Linked DNA regions of Homo sapiens: region 2 is linked to region 1. The links come from fine-mapping of genetic effects on plasma protein levels. A gene starts in region 1. The other region holds a variant in brackets. All regions are shown on one strand. Distances are between the middles of the regions.

Region 1 (16,223 bases):
AAAAGACACTCAGAGGGCTAAGGAAAGAGCCTCTATAGTTATTATAATATGGGAAAGTTGAAGGTAGAAAAATGGTTTAAAATGAAATGAAGCAGGAAGTCAAAGGGTATTTGAATTGACAAGGCATCTGGCAAAGATGTATTACAAGAAAGCATGTGGAAAGAATGGTTCCACAGTAGTCAGACTGAGGGACAGCTGGGAATGGAAGTGGTACATCAACTTGCTGAAGAGCCCAGGATGTCATTTGCTGCCCATCTGAGATGTTTAACAAAAAACGTGTCACCTAATCAGCTAGAAAATATGAACTAGTGACCCAGGAGAGCCTAACTCCTGCTTGCCTTCCACCATAGACCTGCCAGTGGGCTGCTCAGTCATTCATTATACTTGAGGCTGGGTGCAGTTATTTGAAGATCTTTTGAGTGATTCAATTTCATTAAAATTACACCATGGAAATGTGACATTATGAAGGATCATGAACCAACTACAGAAATACAGAAAAGCTGTGGCATGAGCAACTCACACCTGAGTCACTTCCAATACTTGTACCCTAATCATGGACTCTCAGTTCACTGGTATTAAGAATTAAAATTTATTTCATAACAACATGAGGGGGAGAGAGGAAGAAGACAGGAAAGAAGTACATCGAAGTACCGACGGAACCCTTTCAGACAAAGAAAGTAGAATGAAGCAGGACTAGACTCTGCCTCCCTGTTGTGCCGAACCTCTATTGACTCCAATGGGGATGGCATCAGGTTCAATAGACCGAAGAGACCTAATGCCAGCAAATGAGACATGGGGTTTTATTGGGGACTTACATACAGGGCAGAGAGTCCAATGGTGGCGGAGAACCACAATGGCTTGCAAAAAGCATGCAGTTTATATAGCATTTCCACTTAGCACCTTCTCCCTAACAATCTCCACCTGGCAATCTTCATTCAACTCAAAACTCGGGGCCTCAACCCGTGTGCGGCCCATGTTTCACAGGACGAGCCAGGGGCTCAGATGTCCCTTTATAGACAAGGAAGGAACCTCCAGGTTGGCTACTCCTGGATTCCCTAGCTCAGAACACACATTCAGATGCGTCTGCCATACAGGGTCATTCTAAGGGTATGTTTCAGTTATTGCTATCAGGCACGTTTACCACATGCTCCCAACACCCAATAAAGTGAACATACAAAAATTAAAAATTAAAAAGTCAAAAGTTCACCAGCATCAACCAAATAAGAAAAGGGAACCAAACATGCTAAAATTGTAAAAAGAGTCAGCCAAGAGGAAAAAATAGAAAATTCTTCCATCTGTATTCCCTGAAACCAGTAACCAGGAAAGAAATGTCATGCTGAGATTCTCACAAATACCCTCCGATTCTGAACAGCCAACAGGGGAGTGGGTGAGCAGCTCTGAAAACAAAGCCCTTGAGGGCAGAAGCCCACACATATCACAGGGGCTCGGGAGTGGCAGGGCAGGCACGCAGGGCTGGCCACCTTCCAGGGTGCTGGGCCATACTTGGGGACTACCCAGAGCCTGGAGTGGTGACAGAGGGACACCACTGGCTGGTGGAGGGGGCTCTGGGACAAGACTTTAAGGGAGTCTGGGAAGATAGAACAGAGGCTAGCCCTCCCACAAGGGGCTCGCTCAGCATGAGCTGAGCTCCAGTTCTCTCCCACACCTCTTCAGGCTAGAATAGAATAGAGAGAAAGCAACCTAACATTTGAAGTGGGGAAGACAACCAGTTCCACATAAGTGGGGAGAATGACAAGGAGACTCCACTTACACTGTATCTGAGCAAGTAAAAGGTGGGGATAATGTAGGTGTTGACATCAAGCATGGATAAGATGAAAACAAATGGCATGGAAACTAGGCAAACATACCACAACCAACAGAAGGACAGAAAGGAGGAGGGGAGAAAGGAAAAGAAAACCCAGGAACTCAGCCTGGGAGAAAGTGGCTTCTCCATGGCTATCTCAAGCTATGGATGATTCAAGAGAAGTAAAAATATAATATAACAAAAGCTCAAAGACAAGATAATACACCACAGAATAAGATGAAAAGATTGCAGAGTGAAGGAAACAAATTTAGATTCAAATGGCATCAGTAATGAGCTAGTAGATAAATTAGAGCAGTAAAGAACAGAATAAAAATGACTGAAAATTGAGTAAGGCACAGAGTAAAGGTCTGAGATTATTTTAGTGAATGCAGGGAAAAAAGAAAAAAAAATCCTATCACACAATCAAAAGAAATATGATAGATATGGAAGGCAAAGGTGATGAAACAAATAACTATATTTCCTGAAATAGAAAATCCAGTAAGTATAACAGAGAAAATATTCAGAAATAGAAATCAAAAAATTAACCCTGATGTAAAGGAAGGAGTAAATCTGGCCTCAGTATTCTCCAAAACCATATTCAAAAATGAGAAGGCAGCCAGGCATGATGGCTCATGCCTGTAATCCCAACATTTTGGAAGGCCGAGGCAGGAGGATCACTTAGGCCCAGGAGTTTGAGACCGGCCTCAGCAACAGTGAGACCTCAACTCTATAAAAAATTTAAAAATTAGTGAGGCATGCTGGTGAATGCCTGTAGTCTCAGCTACTCGGGAGGCTGAGGTAGGAGAAATGCTTGAGCCCAGGGGATGGAGATTGCAGTGAGCCATGATTGTATCACTGTACTCGAGCCTGGGCCTAGGTGACAGAGCAAGATCCTGTCTCCAAAAACAACAACAACAACAACAAAAACAAACAACAACAAAAAACCAAACCAGAAGGCAATTGATCAGAAATGTCTAAAAAGATCTCAGAATGCTATACCCAGTTATGGTCTTTTTTTCTTCCTTTTAAATATTTTTATTTTATTTTAATTTATTTATTTAGAGATAGTGTCTCACTGTGTCGCTCAGGCTGGAGTGCAGTGGGCACAATCATGGCTCACTGCAGTCTCAACCTCCCAGGTTCAAGTGATCCTCCTACCTCAGCCTCCCAGTAGCTGGGATTACAGGCATATGCGACCATGCCCAGCTAATTTTTTATTTTTTGTAGAGACGGGGTCTCACTATGTCGCCCAGGCTGGTCTTGAACTCCTGAACTCAAGTGACCCTCCCGCCTCAGCCTCCAAAGTGCTAGGCTTACAGGTGTGAGCCACCATGCCTGGCCTAAAAAATTTATTTTAAAAAAGTAATTTATCTCTTACAGTTGTGGAGGCTGAGAAGTCCAAGGTCAAGTGGCCACATTTGGTGAGAGCCTTCTTGCTGGTGGGGACTCTGTGAAGTCCCAAAGTGGCACAGTGCATCACACAGTGAGGGGGCTGAGCATGCCAACATGCTATCTCTTTTCAAGTATAAAAGTAACAGGCAGAAATTCTGAAACATGAATGAACTTAAAAATACAACACATTCCAGCTCTTGTAACAAAAAACCACTGGACAATTGTGATTCTTGAGCATTCTGAAAAAAAAACACTAAAAAACCACTAGACAAGAAATCCTGCCCTCCAGCACTTGCGAAGGTAAAAGCGAAGCAAGTTGTGAACACTAAATACACTGAAACGTAGGACCCACACTGTAGCTGAAGGAATGATGAGTGCAGAACAGATAATAATAAAACTAACAACAAAAATTAAGGTCGGGGAAAAATAAGAATGGGTAGAAATTTAAGTACTAATTGCCTCATCTTTCACTGTAGGAAGTCAAATATTCTGTTCTATATATATGAAATTAAATGTAATATGTTCTGTTTTAAAAACAATAGCTTATATATCCTATTTTTTTGAAACTACTTCCATTTATCCTGTCATCCCTTAAACCAGACATGATGGGCACCAAAAGTTAACACTGTTCCTTTCTGAAAGATGGGATATTTAGGGATTAGTTAATGATGGTTAGAAATCTTTAGGAGCTATGCTTATGAATGATTTTTCCCCTTTTCTCTGCTTTCTTATATATTCTGTATTTTGAAATGCATCCATATACATTAAAAAAAAAAAAACCCAAAAACCTGAATGCTTCTGACCATAGATGATAAATCATGAGACGATTAAGAATGACAAAAAAGAACAAGACTGAGAAAAGACTCTGCTATAGAGAAAACCAAACTTGTTTAAAGGCAAACGAGCAGAAATTAGCAGAGAAGAAGCAGACTGAGAAGCAAGGGCCCTTGAAATGAGTAAGGGTTCCACCAGTTCACTAATAAACCCCATCTAAATGCCAGTAACTCCCAAATTAATACCTCCATACCAGGTCTTTCCCTGAACCCCATATTCCTATCCAACTACTTACTCATGAGCATAGTCGGCCCTCCCTACATGTGGGTTCTACATTCATGGGTTCAACTAACCGCGACTGAAAACATCTTGGGGGGAAGCATCTGTACTGAACATGTATAGAACTATTTTTCTTGTCATTACTCCCCAAACAATACAGTACAACAACTATTTACATAGTGTTTACATCTTGCCCCTACATCTATTCTCTAAACAGCAGCTAGAGTGATCCTTTTATTTATTTATTTATTTGAGAGGGAGTCTCAATCTGTTACCCAGGCTGGACTGCAGTGGTGCGATCTTGGCTCACTGCAACCTCCATCTCCTGGGTTCAAGCAATTCTTCTGCCTCAGCCTCCCGACTAAGAACCTGAGATTACAGGTGCCCACCAACCCGCCCGGCTAATTTTTGTATTTTAGTAGACAGAGCGTTTCACCATGTTGGTCAGGCTGGTCTTGAACTCCTGACCTCAAATGATCCAACTGCCTCGGGCTCCCAAAGTGCTGGGATTACAGGCGTGAGCCACCGTGCCCAGCCTAGAGTGATCCTTTTAAAGCATAGATCAGATCATGTCTTTCCTTTGCTCAAAACTCTCCAATGACTCACATCACATCTTACTCAGAATAAAACCCAGTCTCTACCATGCCCTATAAGGTATCATATCTTATGATTTCCAGCACAGGTTCCTGCCTCAGGGCCTCTGTGTTTGCTCTTCCCTCCATCCAAAATGTTCTCCCCACAGTTGCAAGGTTCACTTTCTTACTTCATTCAGATCTCTTCTCCAATAATGTCAGAGAGGAGTTCCCTGACTTTTCTACTAAAATTCCATCCCCACACCCTTTTCCTGCTTTATTGAGAGCAATAATTCTGTCTCTTTGTTTATAGGTATCTCCCTAGAGCTTAAAAAAGTATCTGACACAAAACAGGTACTCAGTATTTGTTAAATGAATGAATCGATAAAAGAACCCAGGATTTTATTATTCTCAAAATATTATAAAGTCTTTCCTTCTTATTGATCAGACTACTTGCATCACTATAATTCAGACAAATATTATTTGTTCTTAGTGAGCAGTACATGTAAGTTATGAAAAACTCTACCAAGCCTAGGAGTAAAGGTTGGTTTCTGGTCAATTCCACACATGTGTGTTTGAGGAAGGCAGGCGTTGTCACCAGAATCAACCAACACAGACCTTAGTAAGTGGAAAAGAGAGCTCTGGCTGCCTTATCACCTATTTACGACAGAGACTTCAGAAACTAATGCTGGCTTTAGAAAAAAAGACGAAAAGGAGAAAAAAAAAAGAAAACATAAACTAATGTTGGCTTAACTGTACCTGTCCCTGTTGGGTCACCTCCTTGGATCATGAAGTCTTTGATAATTCTGTGGAATTTTGTGCCATTGTAGTAACCTCGACGAGCCAACTCAGCAAAGTTCTTACAGGTCTTTGGAGCATGCTTCCAGTACAGCTCCAGCACAATGATTCCCATGCTGCAGAGGGAGAGGACAACAGCTCCAGTAAACAAAAAGGTCAGGGCAGACAGGAGTATTATGGAACTGCTCCAGGACTCTTGATTTTCAAGCTTGTAAGTCATGAAATTGTGATAACCACTGGATTTCATGCTCAGCAAAGGAAAACACCACAATGCAAGTAACATAAACACCCATTATCTTTTTTGAGTAAAACACGCAGGTGTTCTGGGTACTTCTTTTCAGCAAAATAACAAGCATGGAGAACTCAAAATTCTAATACTATACATATATACATATGTATATATATATAGCTATATCTGATTATCTGAAACCAATATAACCAACCCCTAAATTAGGAAAAAAATTCTTACACTTAATTTTTAATTTTTTAAAAAAAGAGACATTAAAATATCAGGAGTTCATATTTATTTAGAAGTTTCTGGGTGGGGGTAGGGACTGGGTAGATGGAAAATAGGAAGATGTTTAATGAATACCTTTTAAAAACTTTTGTATTTTTGATCCATGTAAATACATTACCTATTCAAAAAATTTCAATAAAAGGTACAGTTTGTGTTTGTTTGGGAGGGAGTATAACAAAGGCAAAACCTGGTAACTTTGAATCTTTGCACCTACCCAATAGGATGAGTGCTTTTTCCTCACCAGTACTACTAAAAGATAAGGAAGAGGCAAGAGAAAGGACGAGTGCCTTCCCCTCTACTCCAGCACATACCTAGACTTTAAGCTCCAAGGATGTGACAATTTTTTTTTTTTTGAGAAAGGGTCTCCTCTGTCACCCAGGTTACAGTGCAGTGGCACAATCTCAGCTTATCGCAACCTCCACCTCCCGGGCTCAAGTGATCCTCTCACCTCAGCCTCCTGAGTAGCTGGGACTACAGGCATGCATCACCAAGCTCAGCTAATTTGTTGTATTTTTTTGTAGAGATGGGGTTTCACCATGTTGCCCGGGCTTGTCTTGAACTCCTGGGCTCAAGCAATCTACCTGCCTTGGCCTCCCAAAGTGCTGGATTACAGATGTGAGCTATGGCACCTGGCCAGATGTGAGAATTGAGTCAACTCTGTATAGTCTGGATACCCAGTGCCTTGCACAGTGTAAACACTCTATAAGTATATGAGGAGTGTGCTAGAAAATAGCTAACAGCCTTTCTGCCTGAAATTCATCCAATTCATCTTTCACACTGCTCCCATTCAACACAGATTGACAGTTACTCTGTGTGTGGTACTCTTTCCCTCATGAAGCTTACATTCTGGAGGATATTTTCAAAATACAGAAAGTAGCCTTTTGGAAAGACAATCAGGAAGTACGTATACAATTCTGAAATGTGCATACCTCAGTAATTTCAACTTCCAAGTATCCTCTAGGAAAATATACAAAAGTGCCTAAGGATACAATATGTGCAAGGATGTTCATCTCAGTATTTGTCATAGCCAAAAAAAAAGGAAGCAACTTAAATGTCCTTGAAATAGGAAATGCCTAAAATATCAACTATCCATACTATGGGCAGCTACCTGAATTACTGAGTGAAAGAAAACCAAGTTACAGAAAAAACATACATACAGTATGATCATATGATCCCATTTTTTTGTTAAAAAAACATGAGAGAGGTTTATATGTACATAGAAAAAAGTCTGGACAATCATCCAACAAACTGTTGATGGTGTTTTCAGGAAGGAGGTGACTTTCACTTCTTACTCTGTATGTCTACATTGCTTGGATTTAACAATTTATTTTGTAACTTTAAAAAATACCAACAGGAGAATTCAGAAATTACAGGTTGGAGCCTGAAGATGTAGAATTTTGCCATATAAGGTGGGGAAGATGGCCAGGGAGCATGAAATGAACAGCATGAGCAAATAGAGAGAGGACTGACAGAACTCTGCTTTAGCTGAAAGCAGCAATGGGCAAGAACAGAAAGGCAGAGGACCTTGGCTGGTCCCTGGCTGTTGAGGGGAGAATGGCAGGTAGACAAGGGCCAGATGAAAAAAATCACCTTGAATGTCAGGATTAATACGTTTTTACTTTATACTGTTATAGCAGCAAGACGTTATTAAAGGTTTTTTGAGCAGGATCCCTTCCTTGTCCTACTTTGTAAAGATCACTTTGAGCTTTTTCCAAAGAGGCAATGGAATGAATAGAGCTAAAGGATCTAGCAAGGTGAGACGAGCACACCAGGCTCCAAACGAGGTTCTTCCAGTTACTAGCTGTGTGGCTTTGGTCAAGGCTTTAAGCTGTAAATTCCGGCGTTTCCTCCTGCTAATATTGAAAGGGAGAAAGTTAAATAATACCTTCATGATTTGAGTTGCTAAGATTAAACTAAATGAGATGACATACAGCGGGGCATGGCGCCAGCAGGTTGGTTACCACATCACTCTTTGATAGTGGGGAAAATGTGCTTCTTCCTGTATTTTACTGGAATTTGTTTCTACAACTGTATTACTTATCACGTAATGTTTACATGTCTGTCTCTTTCATTATACCGTAAGCTCCTAAAGGCAGGGCTGTCTGTGTTTTATCTACCTCTGTATCCTCAGAACTCATATTCCATATGCCTGGCTTGCGGACTCATTACACGTTTGTTGAATGAATGAATGAATGAATGAGCGGACTGGGGGAAGGAGGACAATCAGGCAGCTATTGCTGAGACCTCAGCACAAGACCCCGCGGAGCTTGGACGCGGGCGATGGCGGTCCCCTCTCAACCCTCTGGGGGCCGTCTCGGCCGCTGCTCCACGCCCCTCCACGTGGAGGCCGGCCTCCCGGAGGAACGCGCCAGGAACGCAGACCCGTGGTGAGGCCCGGGCTCCGCGTCTCCTCTGCCAGCCCCAGACGCCCGAACCCCCTCACCTGGTCTCCAAGTAAACGTTGGGTGGCTGCCAGGAATCTGGGGGAATTGCCGCCATAGCGAAGCCGGCGGCGGAATGCTTGTCTAGTAATTGCTACTTCCGGCGTCGATTAGCTGGGGACCCGTCGCTGCTGCACACTTCCGGTCCGTTCAACCCTTTCGATACCAGGATTTGGGTGGCCAAGACAAGGAAGAGGACGGTCCCTTCTTCCAATGCCGGGAAGCTGGGGTGGGAGACGAGAAGAAGCTGGGCTCAAGAACAGAGGAAAATGCAAACTTCATTCGCGGTGGTCTCCAAGTGGCGATACCGCGCCACTCTGGGCGATCTGATTGGTTCGTTTAGGCATGGAAGGCGGGAACAACCAGAAAAGCTGCGCTCTGGTTGGAGTTATGTCCTAATATTAAATTCGAAGAATTTCTTAGTCTCACAATTGGGCAGGGACGGGAAGGGGAGGCAGAGAATGAAAGAGGGTAGTTTAGAGATGCCAGTAAAGAATTTTTGTAAGGCGCTGTACGATGTACACAGTGCTTGCACTTTCTTATCTCATCTACTCCACAAAACAATTCTATAAGTAGATAGTATTATTACCATTTTTCAGATCTGAAAATAGACTCGGCAGTTAATACTTGTTTTTCCATAGTCATAAAGCAAATCTGAGCCTGCAGAATCCAAAGACGAGGAGTCTGAGGAGAAAAGAGAGGGAAGGGGCAGGAAGAAAATAGGAGATAAAGAAAGGAAGAGACAGGAGAAAACAGGACAAACGGATCAGAGCAAGAACAAGGCTTAACATTGGCTGGGATAGATGGTACCTGAAAGTTGTTAGGAGGGTTTGCGCAGGGCGCGAGGAACAGAAGCAAATTAGAGGAGCTATAATGTTTGGAGGGAGGACAAAAATGAAATAGAGTACCTAAACTTAACGCTGTAAATGCTTTGCACACCACTTAATAATGATGGTTGAATGTTTACCATGTGCCAGGCATCAAGCTAAGCATTTTATTGCGTATTTTCACGCTTAATCTTCAAAATCCCACAAGGTAGATATTACTATTCCCATTTTACTTTGAGGAAGCTGAGCCTTACAGATTAAATAACTTGCTTAAAGTACTACAGCTGGTGCACTTGTGCTCTTAACGACAGTTCAACTGTAATGTCCCTAATTGTCAACAAGGAATAAGGATGTACAAGGTTGTAAAGATAAACTAGACAGCTCCTTGAGAGAGGAGCTGGGCCTCCTTCATCTTTGTGCTCTTCTTGCACAGTACAGAGCACAGGGTGCTCAGCTTTGCTGAATGAATAATGAACGGAACACTACATTTTAAACTGATAAATGCTAAAGTATAATTTTTACACCTCCTGCAGTTTCAAGTTCATGCCCACCTTGTGGCCCTTGAGCTGGATGAAAAAGTCTTAATCCTTGGTCTGTTTAGTCTGTTGTTAAGTTGCCTTTCTCTGGACTTTATGTAGTTCTTTACTGTGTATCTCGGGAGTCATGTGCCATTCCCAGGCTCCAATGTCTGAATATTGAAAAGCCACCCCCAAGATCATGATCACTTTCTTCCTAAATCTTTTACTGCAGCTCCTACCAGTCACTTGGCACTGAGGAGACAGAGATGAGTCTCACACACACAGTGCCCTGCCCTAAAGAAACTCACATTCTAGGAGAGATGGGCAACTAAATACGTAGCTGTAGGAGCGTGGAATGAGGACTGTAATAAGAAGCACACAGTAGGTTGGGTGCAGTGGCTGACACCTGTAATCTGGCACTTTCGGAGGCCGAGGCGGGCAGATCATCTGAGGTCAGGAGTTCAAGACCAACCTGACCAACATGGTGAAACCCTGTCTCTACTAAAAATACAAAATAAGCTGGGCATAGTGGTGCATGCCTGTAATCCCTGCTACTTCGGAGGCTGAGGCAGGAGAATCACTTGAACACGGAAGGTGGAGGCTGCAGTGAGCAGAGATTTTGCCTTTGCACTCCACCCTGCACAACAAAAGTGAAACTCCATCTCAAAAAAAAAAAAAAAAAGAAGAAGAAGAAGAAGAAGAAGAAACACAGTTTTCCCTGAGCTCTGGTTACTCCAGAGTAGGTTTGGACAGTCAAAAATTTCCCCTGGAGTGACAGCCTGGGTTGAGATCCAGAAAATAAATTGGAGTTAGCCAGAAGCCATGAGGGGTCAAATCAAATCAAGAAATAAAATGTCTCCAATTCCTCAGAAGCCCCCCTACTAATCATTACCCATTCCTTCCTCCCAAAGGGTAGACCACTTTCTGCCTTCTAATATCATAGATTGGTTTTCCCTGTTTTTGAATTTTATATAAATGGAGTTATAAAGTACGTATTTTTTTGTGCCTGGCTTCCTTTCCTTAACAATATGTTTGTGAGATGTATTCATGTTGTATGTAGTGGCCATTTTTCATTTTTCCTTGCTGTGTAGTATTCTGTTGTACAAACATACCACAATGTATAATGGTGCTGCGATGGATATTTTGTGTATGTATCTTAGTGCACTTGTGCATGAATTTTTGGGAGTATATACCTAGAAGCAGAATTGCTGTGTCATAGGTAACATGTATAATTTAGTAGTTAACACTAGACTGTTGCAAAGTGGCTGTAGCAATTTTTTGTTTTTTTTTGAGACACAATCTCACTCTGTCGCCAGGCTGGAGTGCAGTGGCACAATCTCAGCTCACTGTAACCTCCACCTCGTGGGTTCAAGCGATTCTCCTGCCTCAGCCTCCCGAGTAGCTGGGACTACAGGCGCATGCCACCACACCCAGCTAATTTTTGTATTTTTAATAGAGACAGGGTTTCACCATGTTGGCCAGGATGGTCTCAATCTCTTGACCTTGTGATCTGCCCACCTTGGCCTCCCAAAGTGCTGGGATTACAGGCATGAGCCACCACGCCTGGCCAGTGGCTGTAGCAATTTATGTATGCACCAGCAGCCTGTGAGAATTGCTGTTGCTCTGCTTCCAAGCCAACTCTTAGTATTGCTAGTCTTTTTCATTTAAGGAATCCTGAAGCCTCTATAACAATATCTCAGTAGTAATTTCACTAACAACTAATGACTAATGAAGTTGAATTCTTTTTCCATATGTGTGCCATTTAGATATCCTCTTTGTGATACCTTTTTGTGTTCAAATCTTCTACCTATTTTTCTATTTGGCTGTTTTCTTATTTGTAAAGTTCCTTATATATCCTGGACAGAATATAACACTGGAAAGTTTCTAATTTTAATGTAGTCCAACATATGCATTTTCTCTCTTACAGAACATGTCAGTGTTGGACAGACATTATTGGACATCTCAATATTGCAGCTCTATAATTCTGTTTTGTTTTTATCATATAGATCTGCAATGCATCTAGAACTTATCTTGGTGTATGGTATGAGGTAGGAGCCAAGTTTCATTTTTTTCTATATGGATATACAATTGACCCAGCACCATTGATTGAAAGCATTATCTTTTCCTCACTCCTCTGTTTCACCTCTTTGTCATAAATCAAGTGTCCATATATGTGTTTTCTGGTTTTGGTCTCTCTATTCTGTTTCATTGGTTTCATACATTTATGTCACTGTCACACTACCTCTGTAGCTATAGCATTAGTCTGAACCCAGTAGTATTTTGTTTGCAGATTTCTTGTAGAAAGCAGTTAAGAGATTTGGCGCTACACACAGGGCAGGTTAAGGAGTCTGGGTTCAAATGCTGATCCTTCCATTCCTTATCTGTAAAATCTTGAGCAAGTTAACCTCTCCATAAACTTCAGTTTTGTTTGTATGAGGATGTTATGGGGCTATTTATGCCATAGGGTTGATGAAGTGGCTCCATGAATTGAAAGTGCTTAGTACAGTCTGTCACAGTGTTAAAGCAAACTAAATATGGCCTGAGAAGGGCTTTGTACTTCTATATTTGAGTCCTTGTGGATGAACTATAACCTAGCTTTATAGTCAGACAAATTTGAAAACTTAACTTAATAGTATATACCTGTAACAATAGCTGAATGTTGGCCAATCCCAGCGGCCATACTTCAACAACTCATAGACTGCCGAATGTTCAAATTGCATTCAAATAAGGCAAACACTGAGCTTTAACCAATCTCGCTGTTTCTGTACCTCACTTCCTATTGCTGTACGTTAGTTTACCTTTTTGTCTATAAATTTGTTCTGATCACGAGTCACCCCTGGAGTCTCTGTGAATCTGCTGTGATTCTGGGAGTTGCCCGATTTGCGAATCATTCATTGCTCAATTAAACTCCTTCAAACTTAATTCAGCCAAAGTTTTTCTTTTATCAGATGGTGTCAGGAATGGGATCTAAAGTGGAGCTTCTAGCGACCCCCAGGAGCACTGAGTGAACATGCAAGGTACCTGCAGGATCCACTTGTGTCTATTGATCTCTCACAGCAGCTGGGGATCACAGGTAAGCTCCCTCTCGGATCTCTCTTTCCTTTCCCTTTTTTATCTTTTCTATTACTCAGGGCAACCAGCTTGCCCAGAGATCACGTGTTGAAACCCCTAGTCAGACATTGGATTAAAGATAACGGGGCCCATCTGAGGGCAAATATAAACCTTGCCAGTTTGATATTGAGTGCTAAGCAGAGTGGCTAATGTCTGTGTTTTATCACATGTATTTTGCTCTGGCCGGAACAACAACAAAAAATTTTTCCTTTATGATGCGGCTTGGCCCCCAGTGTGATGGTGTGGCAAGCTGGGTCACTGGGGCCGCTGAGGGAAAGGGAACCCAGAAGGCTGGCATGCCAGCAAAAGAGTAAGAATTTCTTACCAGTCAGATTTTTGGCTTCTCTCTCTCTGTGCAAATGGTTGAATGAATGGTAAAAATCACTGTTTATTTATCTCTTCTCTAAGGTTTTGATTAATGCAAAAAAAATTCTGAGGTTAGTCTTAAACTGATGTATTTGTGCTATGAATTCGTTTTTCTGGGTCAAGGGGTACCTTAGGATAAAACACGGGCTTAGGACCCCACAAGCTCGCTGGTCAATAACAAACTTTCCTGCAGGTCCCTGAAACACAAAAAAAAAACTGGATGGGGTCTCCATCTTGTTTTATGTCCTTGGGAACTTGACCTCGTAACCACGTGGCAGTACTTTCTCTTGGTCTCCACCTTCTAGGGAACAGGGATTTTAGGGTTTATGCCATAGTTAGCTCTAAAAATTATCCTGAGTCATTAAAAGCCTCTGCAAGCTCAAAATTAACTACTCTAGACTCCTTCTGGGAAGGGCAGTAGACTGCTCTGTGCTGTGGCTCACTGGCCTTTCACACTGGCGGTTCCAGTTCCATTCCCTGCTTAGGAAGTAAGTCATTTCTGATTTAATATCTGCATAACCTTCTCTAGTCTCTTCTCCTCCACAGACTATCTTAAATTTTCCTTCCTCGAGCACCTAGGAAGTTACCTTTGGTAAAGTTCAAAAGCCAGAAATATCAGCCATTTGGCCTGGGTAAAATCAGTAATAAGAAATTTAAAAGGACTTTATTAAAGAGTGCTATGCTTAAAAGTCAGGTTAATTAAAAAATGAATATTCAGGCTCTAATGGCCTGGAATCCATGGGAAAAACAGGAGGCACCAGAAACCCTTTTCCTGGCCCTGTTCCTCCAAGGACTCCACCATAAAGCCAATAACCAATTAAGAAACTTAAAAACTGGCAAAAGAAAAATCTTACAACTACTATAGTAATCTTCTTCTGCCTGTCTGTCTAATTATATATGTATTGTGTGTAATGTTTATATAAAAGAGCTCAAATTAATTGGCTTAAACAAAAATAAGCACTTAAATATTTTGAAAGCAAAATAAAAACTGTAATGCCTCTTGGTTCATGTAACTTTAGTAATCTTTGGGAAATAAAAACAACTTTAAATATTATTGATAAAGACATTTTGTCTAAATTATGCAGGTCAGATATTAGCTTTGCTATATGCTTCAAGGTCATAAACTGCTTTGACTTTTGAAAATTGTTCAATTTATTTTGGAGACATTAAATTCTAAATAAGGCCTGGGGATATATGGAATTAGCCATGCCCCCTAGCTATACAAAGGCTATAAAGAAAATAGATTTCATTAAGAAAGGATGTTGTATGGTAAATTCTTGTCCTAAAGTAAAATGACTGGTTGTTTAAAAAGAGGGATGTTTAGGGCAAGTCAGAAAGTCTAAACATGTCACACATAGTCTGTGTAAGTTGTGAAAAAATTTATGAAAAGGAATTCATGCCAGACATGTTGTACAATTTAAGGTGATTAGGCCTCCTAAATGCTTCATAAAATGCCACCATGACTCTTAACTGTACAGCCTGCCTGCTTTATAGCTAGGTAAGGCCTGGGACACCTGTAGTTAGATGCTGGAAAGAGTCGGACCTTTATCTGCATTTCTGTCTGGGTCCTGGGCTCCACACCTAGTACATAATTAAAATCCTTACTTACCAAGGTTTTCACCAAAAGTAAAAGTTGCTAAGAGTTAACATTGTAATATGTAATTGAGAGTACTGAAAAAATAGGTTTACATGCAAGGTGTGTAAGGAGAATGAAATGTGTTTTTTGTAAGAGATTATAAGAAAATACAGGAATGTAAATTTTTGCCTAGGTTAGAGGGTTAAAGGATTGTTTTAAATTAAATAAAGCTAAAGGTTTGAACAAGTTGTGGAAGGTTTATAAAAATTAATTATAGGGGCCAGGCACGGTGGCCCATGCCTGTAATCCCAGCACTTTGGGAGGCTGAGGTGGGTGGATCACCTGAGGTCAGGAGTTCGAGACCAGCCTGGCTAACATGGTGAAATGCCGTTTCTACTAAACATACAAAAAATTAGCCAGGCGTGGTGTTGCACGCCTGTAATCCCAGCTACTGGGGAGGCTGAGGCAGGAGAATCGCTTGAACCTGGGAGGCCGAGGTTGCAGCAAGCCAAGATCACACCATTGCACTCCAGCTTGGGCAGCAAGAGTGAAACTCCATCTCGAAAAAACAAAACAAAACAAAACAAAACAATTAATTATTAGGATTCTATGTGTGAACATATTGGCTAAAGTTAAAATGGCATTATTCAGTTTTTTTTTCCATAAATGGGACATTGGAATAAAAGCACAACAGAGTTTTCTTAGAAGATTGTTCTGCTCTGAGAAAAAAAATAGTAAAGGGTTATAAAAGGTTTATAAAAATCTTACCTTATGGTCAAACTAATTAAAACTGAATAGATTTCTAAAATATTATTAAAAACTAGCTTTAACATTAAAAATACACTAATGGAAACATAAAATTTGGTTCCCTCTTTTAGAAAGGATTTTTATTTAATATTAAAAGATAATGAAAGGTTTTTGTTTACCTTTTAAATAAACAACAAAAAAAAATGGTTGAGGAAGGAAAGAAAGGAGATAGTCAGTTGGCCTCATGCTATCCTCATTGGATCTTGTTTGGAAAGCTGAGTCTCCTTTCTATCAAAATACTGTTTTTTCCTTTAAAATTTTTTAAGTTATCATTTTGGCTAAATGAATGACTTATGGTAACCTAAGATTCTATTTTGTAATATCCAATGTTTTAAACCTTTGGTATTTAACAAACCTTTCAAAATCAAGCTCTAGATTATCATGCTAAATAAGCCAATACTAAAATTGTTTAAATATACAATTTGAATGAACTCCATGGTC
Region 2 (12,864 bases), 21 kb after region 1:
GAAAATAAAAATAAAAAACTGGACAAGGTAGAGAATGGATTGGGGAAGAGGAGAACTGGAAGTATAGAGATTAACTACATCTTTGTGATGGTCCATAGGAGAGATGTTGAAGACCTTAACTGTGCTGTTAATGTAGAGAGGAAGGGATGAATGTGAGAATTATATAGGAGGCTGAATCAAGAGGACTTAGTGATAGTTTCATTGGTGGGAGTGAGGTAGGAGGAGAATAGTTTTTAAATTTGGAGGATTAGTGTTTCCATTAAGAAAAGAGGTGCAGTGGGAGGAATGAGTTGAAGGGGAAAACAGTAAGTTGGGTTATAGACACATTACATACAGGGAGCTATGGGAAACTTGGATCACCGTGTCTGGTAGGCAGGTAGATAAATGGGTCTTGAACCCTAGAGAGAGTTGTAGACTGGAGAAGAGATTTGGGAATCACCAATAGCTGGTGGTCAAAGTGTTGGAGGGAATAAGAAGGTCAAGGATAACTGGTGGATACCAGCAGAGAACGAGAGAATTATGTTAAGGTTTGAGTACACTTGAGGGAGATAGATAATGGGGTAGCAACAGCAGCTGCTGCAGAGAGGTCAGATAAGGTAATAACTGAAAAAAACGTCCTTCGAACTTGGCGTTTAGAAAGCCATTTGTGGCCTCAGTGAAAGCAATGTCGGTGGAGTGAGGAGGCAGAAATATGATTTCAACAGGTTAATAAATGAATGGAAACCTGAGAAACAAGAAAGTGTGTTACTTTCTCCCCCCAACCCCCAAAGGAGCTTTCCTCTGAAGGGAGGGAGGGAGAGAGTACCAGAAACTTAGAAAGGAACTATTATGGCATTTTTCTGATAGTAGAAACTGGAAAGGGTGAGGATGGAAGCAAGTAGAGGTAAGCTTAAAAATGTGAAGACTTCTTCAAGTATGTCAATGTCCTAAAAGACCAAAAAACAAAAACAAAAAAAAAAAGAAAAACCACACACTGGGGACTTGTTCTGAAGTTAAGTAGATTAAAGAGAGGCATGGCAGCCAAATTCAATGTGTGGTCATTGGTTGGATCCTGGATTTTTAAATAGCTATATGATCTTTTTAAAAAAATTTGATAGTTAAGGAAACTTGACTATAGACTGAATATTAGGTAATATTAAGAGATTACTCATTTTAATGGGTATGGCAATAATGCCAATGGTTGTGTGTAGAATAACGTCGTTATTCTTAGGAGATGCATGTTGAAATATTTAGAAATGATTTTATAATGTGTTGCAAATAACTTTCAAGTAGTTCTGGTAAAAACAGAAAGAAAATATAGCCAAATGTAAACAACTGGTAAATCTAAATGAAGGATATCCAGGTGTTCATTGTACTATTTTTGTACAAAAAGCTTTACACATTTAATGTGTACAGCTTGATGAATTTGGACATAAGTATGCCCTTGTGAAACCATCACCATGATCCATGCCATCAACCTATCCATCACCTTCAAGTTTCCTCCTGCCTTCTTACTTATTATTACTATTAGCAATAAGAACACTTAACATAAGACCTACCTTCTTAGCATATTTTTAAATATACAATACAGTATTGTTAACTCTGGGCACTGTGCTGTATAGTAGGTCTCTAGGAGTTATTCATCTTGTATAACTGAAACTTTGTATTCTTTGCCCAGTACCTCCCTGTTTCCCCCTGCCTGCAGCCTCCTGCAACCACCATTCTGTTCTTTGCTTCTATGAGTTTAGCTATTTTAGATTAATCGCACAAGTGGTATCATGTAGTATTTATCTTTCTGTGTCTGGCTTATTTCACTTAGCATAATGTCCTCCAGGTCCATCCGTATTGTTACAAATAGCAGGATTTCTTTCTTTTTTAAGGCTGAATAATATTCCATTGTATGTATATACTACATTTAAAAAAAAAATTTTATTCTTTTGACACAGAGTCTCAGTCTGTTGCTCAGGCTGGGGTGCCATGATGTGATCTCTGCTCACTGCAACCTCCACCTCCCAGGTTCAAGTGATTCTCATGCCTCAGCCTCCCGAGTAGCTGGGATTATAGGCATGCGTCACCATGCCTGGCTAATTTTTGTATTTTTAGTAGAGACAGGGTTTTGCTATGTTATGTTGGCCAGGCTGATCTCCAGCTCCTGGCCCCAAGTGATCCACCCGCCTCAACCTCCCAAAGTTTTGGGATTACAAGTGTGAGCCACTGTGCCCTGCCTGTACCTTGATTGTAAATTTTAAGCATTTATTGTAGTTTTAAGTTATTACTCTTTTAAATCGTATTAATCATTTCAATGTTTTATCAGTTATTTTTCCTTTTAATTGATGTTTGTTTCTTTGTAGTGGTTCTTATTATAATCTAAGAAGCACTTTTTCTTTTTATTATTATTATACTTTAAGTTTTAGGGTACATGTGCACAACGTGTAGGTTTGTTACATATGTATATGTGTGCCATGTTGGTGTGCTGCACCTATTAACTCGTCATTTACATTAGGTATATCTCCTAATGCTATCCCTCCCCACTCCCCTACCCCACTACAGGCCCCAGTGTGTGATGTTGCCCTTCCTGTGTCCAAGTGTTCTCATTATTCAATTCCCACCTATGAGTGAGAACATACGGTGTTTGGTTTTCTGTCCTTGCGATAGTTTGCTCAAAATGATGGTTTCCAGCTTCATCCATGTCCCTATAAAGGACATGAACTCATCCTTTTTTGTGGCTGCATAGTATTCCATGGTGTATATGTGCCACATTTTCTTAATCCAGTCTATCATTGATGGACATTTGGGTTGGTTCCAAGTCTTTGCTATTTGTGAATAGTGCCACAATAAACATATGTGTGCATGTGTCTTTATAGCAGCATGATTTATAATCCTTTGGGTATATACCCAGTAATGGGATGGCTGGGTCAAATGGTATTTCTAGTTCTAGATCCTTGAGGAATCACCACACTGTCTTCCACAATGGTTGAAGGAGCACTTTTTCTTTACTAGAACATATATTTAATTAATGGGATCACTGGATAAAATAGAATGGAATATATTCATAACACTAAAGAATGGATACCATACTTCATGGGTAGTGTAATATTAAAGAGCCAAGTAGAGAAAAAAGAAAATTTAATTTACTCTGGATATAGCTCCTAGTGTTGAAGATTGGGATGTATCTTGATGGACTTTTGAAACTTTCTTTTGAACTGTACTGTTTCCCCTTTTGTGCTTTAACTAGATGAATCAGTTTTCTATCCTAGAGTTACCTCGCTGGCATAGCTCTTCAGAAAACAGAACGTCCAGGGTAATGGCATATCAGTGTTCAGGACTTACTTATCTCTATAGAGGAATTAGTTCTCTGTTAAACAGGGCAAAAGAGAAGTTTACATTTCTCTTAACTTCTTTTCTGCTTTAAAGAAACATTTGTATTGGTAAGTTCTATCAGAGTTTTTCTGTCAGATATGCCTCTACCCTGTTTCTTCATAGGCAGAGACCCAGAAGGAATTGTGGAGAACATCTCATCAGAGCTCTCAGTTGTCTCCTCCTATTTCTGAAGTACTCCAGAAGTGAAACAACTCCCTGGCTTACCTCCGACAGGCCTCTCTTGAAAGCAAGGTTTCTTGACCTCGTTTTGAGGAGGGGTAGGAGGAGGTTCTCCTGTGCATTGCAGGATGTTTAGTCTTTACCCACCAGATGCTAATAGTACCCCTCCAGTTTGTTGATTTTTAATTTTTTTAAAAGAGCTGGAGCCTCCCTGTGTTGCCCAGCCGGGAGTGCAGTTGCTGTTCACAGGCGTGATCGTAACTCACTGAGCCTCTAACTTCTGGCCTCAAGTGATCCTCCTGCCTCAGCCTCCCGAGTAGCTGGAACTATAGGCATGTGCTGCTGTGCCCAACTCCTGTCCAGTTTTGATAATCAAAAATGTCTTCAGACATTGCCAAATGTCCCCTTTGGAGCAGAATTACCCTGAGAACTATTGTTGTAAAGTAGTGTCTCTTAATTGGGGGTGTGTGCCTTTAATCAGCAGAGAAGAGGCTTGAAAGCGTACACACCTGAGCTCCACTCCTAACAGTTCTGGCAACTTAGCATATCCGAGGTGGTGCATGATACTTTGATCCTAATAACTCCACTAGTGATCCTGCCTGTGCCCTTGCAGGTCTATGCCACTGTTAGAATCAGGCTAACTCTTCAGAACTTCCCCCTGTAGCAAAGCTCACTTTGGCCAGAGTTGGAACTACTTTCTGCAGGTAAGTGGATTGCCATCAAGCCTCAGCCGATTTCACTCAATCCTCTCATGCTTGATGCATAGTAATGACCTTATGTTTGAATTTTTTTTTTTTTTTGAGACGGAGTCTCGCTCTGTCGCCCAGTCTGGAGTGCAGTGGGGCAATCTCTGCTCACTGCAAGCTCTGTCTCCTGGGGTCACGCCATTCTCCTGCCTCAGCCTCCCAAGTAGCTGGGATTACAGGCCTCCGCCACCGCGCCCGGCTAATTTTTTGTATTTTTAGTAGAGACGGGGTTTCACTGTGTTAGCCAGGATGGTCTTGATCTCCTGACCTCGTGATCTGCCCGCCTCGGCCTCCCAAAGTGCTGGGATTACAGGCGTGAGCCACCGCGCCCGGCCTTGATTTTTTTTTTTTTAAGGGATGAGTTTTTTTGTTCTTGTTTAATTACCATCGTATCCAACCAAATCCCAATAGTGTCCCTCTAGCAAGACAATAAAAAATGTCTCCAGGCATCCCTGGGGGCAGAATCTTTTCCAGTTTAGGACGACTGATATAACCAAAGCCAAAAAGAGGGCTTATCACAATCCACAGGTATTCTTAGAAACGTCACTAAGTTGCTATTAACTACCTTTCTGATAACTTGAGAAATGTGTCATAATCTCTCGGAAGAAGGATGCATGGCTTGCAAAAATATATTCAGTGTTTTAATATCATTTTAACTTGAATTACCCAACAAGAAAAGAAACGTATTTTTTTGTGTGTGATACAAACTGGGAGTTTAATAAGATTTTTATGTGTATCAAAAAGGCTTACAGGCCAGGCGCGGTGGTTCATGCCTGTAATCCCAGCACTTGGGAGTCCAAGGTGAGTGGATCACTTTAGGCCAGGAGTTTGAGACCAGCCTAGCCAATATGGTGAAACCCTGTCTCTACTAAAAATACAAAAATTAGCTGGGTATGGTGGCATGTGCCATTTTTTATTGTCTTGCTAGAGGGACACTGTTGGCATTTGGTTGGATATGATAGTAATTAAACAACAAAAAATATCATCCTTTAATCCCAGCCTGTAATTCCAGCTGCTCAGGAGGCTGAGGCATGAGAATCGCTTGAACCCGGGAGGCGGAGCTTTCAGTGAGCCAAGATTGCACCACTGTGCTCCAGCCTGGGCAACACAGCGAGACTCTGTCTCAAAAAAAAAAAAAAAGGAAAAAAAGGAAAAAAAAAAGACTTGAGGAGGCTTACAAAGGTTGCAAAACAGCCATCAAAAATAATGATGATTAATCCTGTTTTCCTCACCTGTACTTTTGTCCCCTTCAGGATTCTCCTACCGGCACACCGTGTTCTCTTCTGTGTGTGATGTTCTCTTCTGCCTCAGGGATACTTGCTTGTGACCCCACCTCCCAGCATCCACACTAGTTTTTCACTGGAATTTGTTTCTAGCAGTCCTTTCTGGATCCTTTCCATTCTGGTCCTCTACTGAGTTTTAATGGGTTTTGACTGGGTATTGTTAGATAATGAATTGTAACATATTTAAATGAATATTATTCCTACTTGCTTTCATAGAATGTCTTTGTTAGTTTAAACAGGAAAATGGCATCTCAGAATCACTGATCACAAAACCAAGATGTGAAAAATGTTGTAATAAGTTATCCCTTTACTCTATTTGCAGGAATCATTGTAGTCAATCATTTTCCAGTTCTCAGCCGCTCAGTTGTGATCAAGGGACACGTGGTTTCCGAACTGCCAGCTCAGAATAGGAAAATAACTTGGTAAGGGAGGCAGCATGCAACAACCCTGAAGTCAGGACACTTGGGTTCACATCCTGGCAAGTTATGAAACCTTTCTGAGCCTTGAACATGTATGAAATGGGATCGATCACAGCTACCTTATGGGATCACAGTGGTGATTCACTGAGATAATATTTCCAGAGTGTTTAGCAAGGCACCTGGCATATAGGGTGGGAACAGGAATAGGAGTGCAATTGAACATGAGTCTTCAGTTTCTAATGAATTGAATTTTTCTCCTTCCTGAAGTGTTCATAGATTCTTAGAATTTTAGAGCGAGACTCTAAAATTTGTAGTCCAATCCTCTTATTTTTTGGATGCAGAAGTAGACCAAGTAATTTAACCGAAATCATCTCACTAGCAATTGGCAAAGCTTGTCTCCAGGTTCAATGCTGTTTCATTTTTCCAGCTGTAATATTTGAATACAACTCTATAGAGAACCAAAAAGTCATTGGCATGGCAAATCATGCCTTGCTTCTTCCCTATGGTGCCATGGTCATGCATTGCTGTACATCTCTGACTCATTTTGTGCCCAGTGATGTTCCTTAGAAGTGACTGTGAGAATTTTGTGATTACAAAATTGATACAGGAAAAGTTTGGGAAATATGAAAGTCACAAAGAAAATAAAAACCAGCTGTGATCTCATTTTCCAGAGATCATCTACTCCTGAATTATTTTTAATTGGAAATGCTACATCTTAATTTCTGGGGGTTTTTTTGGTGTTATTGTTAGTATGGCTCTTAATGCTTTGTAATCCATCCTCCTGGCTGCTAATCAAAAATGGCTTAGTGAAAAGAATGTGGGGTCGAAATGAGGCTCAGGTGACAACCGACTGGGTGGTCTCAGATAAGTCACTTCCCATCTGGAAATCTACTTTATATCTCTATAGATTTGCCTATTCCTTGCAGGTTTGTTAAAAAGGTATTAAGAAAAAAAAGATGTGTCTATTCCTGACTTCTCATCTAAATGCAGCTATATAATCTGTAGTTTTTCGTGACTGTCTTCTTTCACCTAGCATAATGTTTTCAAGGTTCATCCATATTGTATCATGTATCAGTACTGCATTCCTTTTTATCGTCCAGTGATTTTGCATTATATGGCTCTACCACATTGTGATTATCCTTTCATCAGTTCATGGACATTTGGATTACTTCCATTTGGGGGCTGTTATGAATAATGTTGCTGTTCACATTTGTGCACAAGTTTTTGTGTGGACATATGTTTTCATTTGTCTTAGGCACATACCTAGAAGTAGAATTGCTGGGTCATATGGTAACTGTGTTTAACTCTTTGCGGAACTGCCAGGCTGTTTTCCATAGTGGCTGTACCATTTTATGTTTCAATTCCTCCATGTCCTTACCAACACTTTTTGTCTGACTTCTTGATTGTAGCTATCCCAGTGGATGTGAAATGATATCTCACTGTGATTTTGATCTGCATTTCTCTGATGGTTAATAATGTTGAGTATCTTTTTGTGTGTTTATTGGTCCTTTGTATATCTTTTTTTGAGATGGAGTCTCACTCTGTCACCCAGGCTGGAGTGCAGTGGTGTAATCTTGGCTCATTGCAACCTCTGCCTCCCAGATTCAAGTGATTCTTCTGCCTCAGCCTCCCAGATAGCTGGGATTACAGGTGCCTGCCACCACACCCGGCTAATTTTTGTATTTTTAGTAGAGACAGGGTTTCACCATGTTGACCAGGCTGATCTCGAACTCCTGACCTCAAGTGATCTGCCACCTTGGCCTTCCAAAGCGCTGGGATTACAGACGTGAGCCACTGCACCCAGTCCATTTGTATATCTTTTCTGGAGAAATGGCTATTCAAATCCTTTGTCTATTTTTTTATTTGGTTGTCTTTTTATTACTGATTTGTAATAATTCTTGATGTATTCTATATAGACCACCCCCTTATCAGATATATAATTTGCAAAAATTTTCTCCCATTCTGTGGCTTGTCATTTTACTTTCTTGATGGTATTGAGACACAGAATTTTTGAGGTTTTTCCCCTCCTCTTGTCTTCTACAAAAAGTTTTTAATTTTGATGAAGTCCAATTTATTTTTTCTTTTGCTACTTGTTCTTTTGGTATCATATCTAAGAAACCATTGCCGAATCCCAGAATCATGAAGCCTCCCTCTCTGTGTTTTCTTCGAAGTTTTATCATTTTAGCTTATAAATTTAGGTATTTGATCCATTTTGAGTTAATTTTTGTGTATAGTATAAAGAAAGGGACAGGCATGGTGGCTCACACCTGTAATCCCAGCACTTTGGGAGGCTGAGGCAGGCGAATTGCCTGAGGTCAGGAGTTCGAGACCAGCCTGGCCAACATGGTGAAACCCCGTCTCTACTAAAAATCCAAAAAAATTTGCTGGGCGTGGTGGTGGGTACCTGTAATCCCGCTACTTGGGAGGCTGAGGCAGGAGAATCGCTTGAACTCGGGAGGCGGAAGTGGCAGTGAGCCAAGATCGCGCCACTGCACTCCAGCCTGGGCAACCAGAGCAAGACTCTGTCTCAAAAAAAAAAAAAAAAAAAAAAGAAAAGAAAGAAAGGTCCAACTTCATTTTCTCATTTGTGGATATCCAGTGGTCCTAGCATCATGTATTGAAAATAATACATTAAAAATTATATAGCTGTCCCTTGGTATATGTAGGGTATTCGTTCCAGAATCTCCATATACACCCAAATCCTTGCATATTCAAGTTTCACAGTTGATTCTTCAGAACCTGTTTATACAAAAAATCATCCCTCTGTATATGTATATGCAGTTTTTGCACCCTGAAAATACTGTATTTTCAATCCTGGGTTGGTAGAAAAAAATCAGCTTTTAAGTGTATCCACATAGTTCAAACCCATGTTGTTCAAGTCTCAACTGTAGTTTGTACTGTCTTTTTATCTGAATGTGGGGGGTATAGTGTGGTGGGCTCTTCTCTCATTCCCCCAGTTCCTGGAAGTCTAGATTGCATGCCTTTTAATCCACCATTAGAAGTCTTCTGATTCTGATTTAATTGCTCTGAGTTGATGCCCAGGTATGAGCATTTATGAAACGCTCTCTAGGTGATTCTAATGTGCAAGCCAGGTTAAGACCTAATGAACTAAACACTTAATAGTCGTAAAGAGGACCAAACAGGAGTGATTGGGAGGCACACTGCTGGAAGAGGAGGTGTGCTGGCGTGCGCTGGGTTGTGTTGTAACAACATGACTATGTCCTCCACCCTACAGGTGGCAGCATCTCCTTACTGAGAGAATACACGTACTATGTCAGTACTTTTTGGGGCTAGAAGTACTGTAGGAATGAAGTATGCAAAATAAAAGGACCCTCTGTATTGAAAATAAATATATAAATAAATAAAGCCCAGTAGAAGAGAGCACAAACCCGAAGAAGCACTCTTCTTCCTCCTGTAAATGAAGAAAAATATTATTGTTCTGTAACTTAAACACCTTTTTAAATAGCCATTTAATTATTTTATCTTATTTTATTTCTCTAGAGATGGGATCTCGTTCTGTCTCCCAGGCTGGAGTGCAGTGGTATGATCATAGCT[C/T]ACTGCAGCCTCAAACTCCTGGGCTCAAGCAGTCCTCCCACCTCAGCTTCCCAGGTAGCTGGGACTACAGGTGTGTGCCACCAGGCCAAGCTGATTTTTAAAATTTGTTTTTCTTTTCTTTTCTTTTCTTTTTTTTTTTTTGAGATGGAGTTTCGCTCTTGTTGCCCAGGCTGGAGTGCAATGGCGTGATCTCGGCTCACCACAACCTCTGCCTCCCGAGTTCAAGAGATTCTCCTGCCTCAGCCGCCCGAGTAGCTGGGATTACAGGCACCCGCCACCATGCCAGGCTAATTTAGTATTTTTAGTAGAGGCGGGGTTTCTCCGTGTTGGTCAGGCTGGTCTTAAACGCCGGACCTCAGGTGATCCGCCTGCCTCAGCCTCCCGAAGTGCTGGGATTACAGGCACGAGCTATTGCGTCCAGCCTTGGAACTATTTAATTTCATTTTACAAATGATACAGAGAGAACTCTACTTTGCCCCATTAGTTTTTACCTTTTGTTCTCTGGGCATGATGAAACAATCTGTCTTTAAAATAACTATAGGAACACAAATTGAATTTTTAAATTAGTTAAAAATCTTAGGTATTTTAAGTATATAAAATACAAATAAAATGCCCTTTATTTTCTAAAATTGTATTTGTAGAAAAGCATGAGGACTCTGGTTGCTCCAGAAGAAATTAAAAAAAAGAAGAAGAAAGAAAAGTGTGAGGACTGCAAGCCACATGCCATGGTTTTTGTGTTGTCTGAAATCTTTGCTCTGCCAAGAACAAAGCTTATCAGCCTGTTGCTCTCAGTAAATCACCTTCAGTAATCTTCAGTGATCAGTTCTTCCTCTTGTGTTGAACACAAATGTTCAACAACAGCGTTAAACAACACTGTGCATAATCCATTTTTTTTTTATTTTAAGGAATCTCCAGTAGCAGATCTCCCATCATTGGTGTCAGAAATCTTTTTTGGATGTCATTAGTGCTTCAGAGTCCCATTAGGATATATTGTGCTCTAGACCAGTGCTCCTCAGTTTGCACTAGTTTGGGAACTAGTGCAGGTCTGTAAACTGTTCCTGGCCCACAGTTAACGAATATTTTAAAACTTGTATGGCAATTTGACATTGTCTCTGTGTATTCATTGTGTTTCATGAAAGTATTGGTCTGTAGAGGATTGAGGAAAGCACAAAACTGGTCCTTCTCTACAGATGGTCAAGTAGCTTTGAAGAGGAAGTACCTAAAGAAACCACCTTTCTTTTTACATTTATTTTCTCTCCGTCTCTCTCAGGGATTTTATATTGGAAGACATGGATCTTGCTGCCAACGAGATCAGCATTTATGACAAACTTTCAGAGACTGTTGATTTGGTGAGACAGACCGGCCATCAGTGTGGCATGTCAGAGAAGGCAATTGAAAAATTTATCAGACAGCTGCTGGAAAAGAATGAACCTCAGAGACCCCCCCCGCAGTATCCTCTCCTTATAGTTGTGTATAAGGTAAAATGTTTCCTGAGTTGGTAATTGCTTCAACAGAACACAAACTGTTCAACATTCTTCACAAATGCTATTGTTGACTAATCCCACCACTGAGCATTGGTTTTTCCGTGAATAAATTGGCCTTTGCTCTTGTTACCATGTGTTACTAGGAAATTTGACTGTGTTGTTAAAGGTCCTAGATGAAAGCTGCATATTTACAGTTAAATTATATTTGTGTAATATTATTATTTAATTTTTTATTATTTGTTTGTTTGTTGTGTGTGTGTGTTTTGAGACGGAGTCTCACTCTTGTTGCCTAGGCTGGAGTGCAATGGCGCAATCTCGGCTCACCGCAACCTCTGCCTCCTGGGTTCAAGTGATTCTCCTGCCTCAGCCTCCCAGGTAGCTGGGATTACAGGCGTGCGCCACCACACCCAGCTAATTTTGTATTTTTAGTAGAGACAGGTTTTCTCCATGTTGGTCAGGCTGGTCTTGAACTCCTGACCTCAGGTGATCTGCCCACCTCAGCCTCCCAAAGTGCTTGGATTATAGGCGTGAGCCACCACGCCTGGCCTTGTGTTTTGTTTTTTTTTGTTGTTTTTTTTTTGAGATGGAGTCACACTCTGTTGCCCAGGCTGGAGTGCAGTGGCGTGATCTCAGCTCACTGCAACCTCCGCCTCCCAGGTTCAAACGATTCTCCTGCCTCAGCCTCCCAAGTAGCTGGGATTACAGCCATGTGCCACCACACCTGGCTAATTTTTGTATTTTTAGTAGAGACAGGGTTTCTCCATGTTGGTCAGGCTGGTCCTGAACTCCTGACCTCAGGTGATCTGCCCTCCTCGGCTTCCCAAAGTGCTGGGATTACAGGCCTAAGTCATCGCACCTGAACAGATTTTTTATTTTTCTAGTCAAGGTCACACTGTGTTGCCCAGGCTGGAGTGCAGTGGTGCCATCATGGCTCACTGCAGCCTCGAACTCCCAGACTCAGGTGATCCTCCCATCTCAGCCTCCCAAGTACCTAGGACCACAGGCATGTGCCACCACACCTGGCTAATTTTTCTATTTTTTGTAGAGATGGGGGTTTTTCCGTGTTGTCCAGGCTGGTCTCGAACTCCTGGGCTCAAGTGACTTGAGTCCAGTCAATCACTGTCAGACTGAGTTCGAGACTGCCCACCTCAGTCTCCCAAAGTGCTGGGGTTACAGGTGTGAGCCACTGCAGCCAGCCTTTATGTATGTATTTATTTATTTTTTGAGACAGAGTTTCACTCTTGTTGCCCAGGCTGGAGTGCAATGGTGTGATCTTGGCTCAGTGCAACCTCCGCCTCCCAGGTTCAAGCAATTCTCCTGCCTCAGCCTCCCAAGTAGCTGGGATTACAGGCATGCGCAACCATGCCCGGCTAATTTTGTATTTTTAGTAGAGATGGGAGTTTCACTATGTTGGTCAGCTGGTCTCGAACTCCTGACCTCAGGTGATCCACTCACCTCAGCCTCCCAAAGTGCTGGGATTACAGGCATGAGCCACTGTGCCTGGCCTAATACTTGTATTTTTGGTAGAGGTGGGGTTTCACCATGTTGGCCAAGCTGGTCTCGAACTCTTGACCTAAGGTGATACACCCGCCTTGGCCTCCCAAAGTGCTGGAATTACAGGTGTGAGCCACTGCGCCCGGCCCCTTTGTGTATTATTATTATTATTATTATTATTATTATTATTTTTTTTTTTTTTTTTTTTTTTTTTTTTTTGAGATGCAGTCTCACTCTGTTGCCCAGGCTAGAGTGCAGTGGTGCGATCTTGGCTCACTGCAAGCTCCATCTCCCAGGTTCACACCATTCTCCTGCCTCAGCCTCCTGAGTAGCTGAGACTACAGGCGCCCATCACCACATCCGG

What was found. PIP is the chance, under the fine-mapping model, that this variant and not a neighbour inherited with it causes the effect. Sun 2018 read protein levels with aptamers (SomaScan).
Region 2: its variant is fine-mapped to the plasma level of the PPIL1 protein (Sun 2018, PIP 0.95).

Annotation. Positions count from the first base shown.
Region 1 is chr6:36,866,138-36,882,360 of GRCh38, forward strand. It overlaps PPIL1 (peptidylprolyl isomerase like 1), which reads right to left and starts at 8,666. Exons shown (of 4, transcript NM_016059.5): 1 at 8,580-8,666; 2 at 5,581-5,735. The coding sequence starts at 8,635. It also overlaps a transcript of C6orf89 not described here. RefSeq lists enhancers at 1,492-1,991, 8,657-8,886.
Region 2 is chr6:36,888,634-36,901,497 of GRCh38, forward strand. C6orf89 (chromosome 6 open reading frame 89) reads left to right here. Exons shown (of 9, transcript NM_001286635.2): 2 at 5,871-5,970; 3 at 10,793-11,000. The coding sequence starts at 10,812. Among named protein-coding and RNA genes, the nearest start is that of C6orf89, 9.1 kb to the left of the region's middle. The variant C/T (reference allele first, on the strand shown) is at 9,523.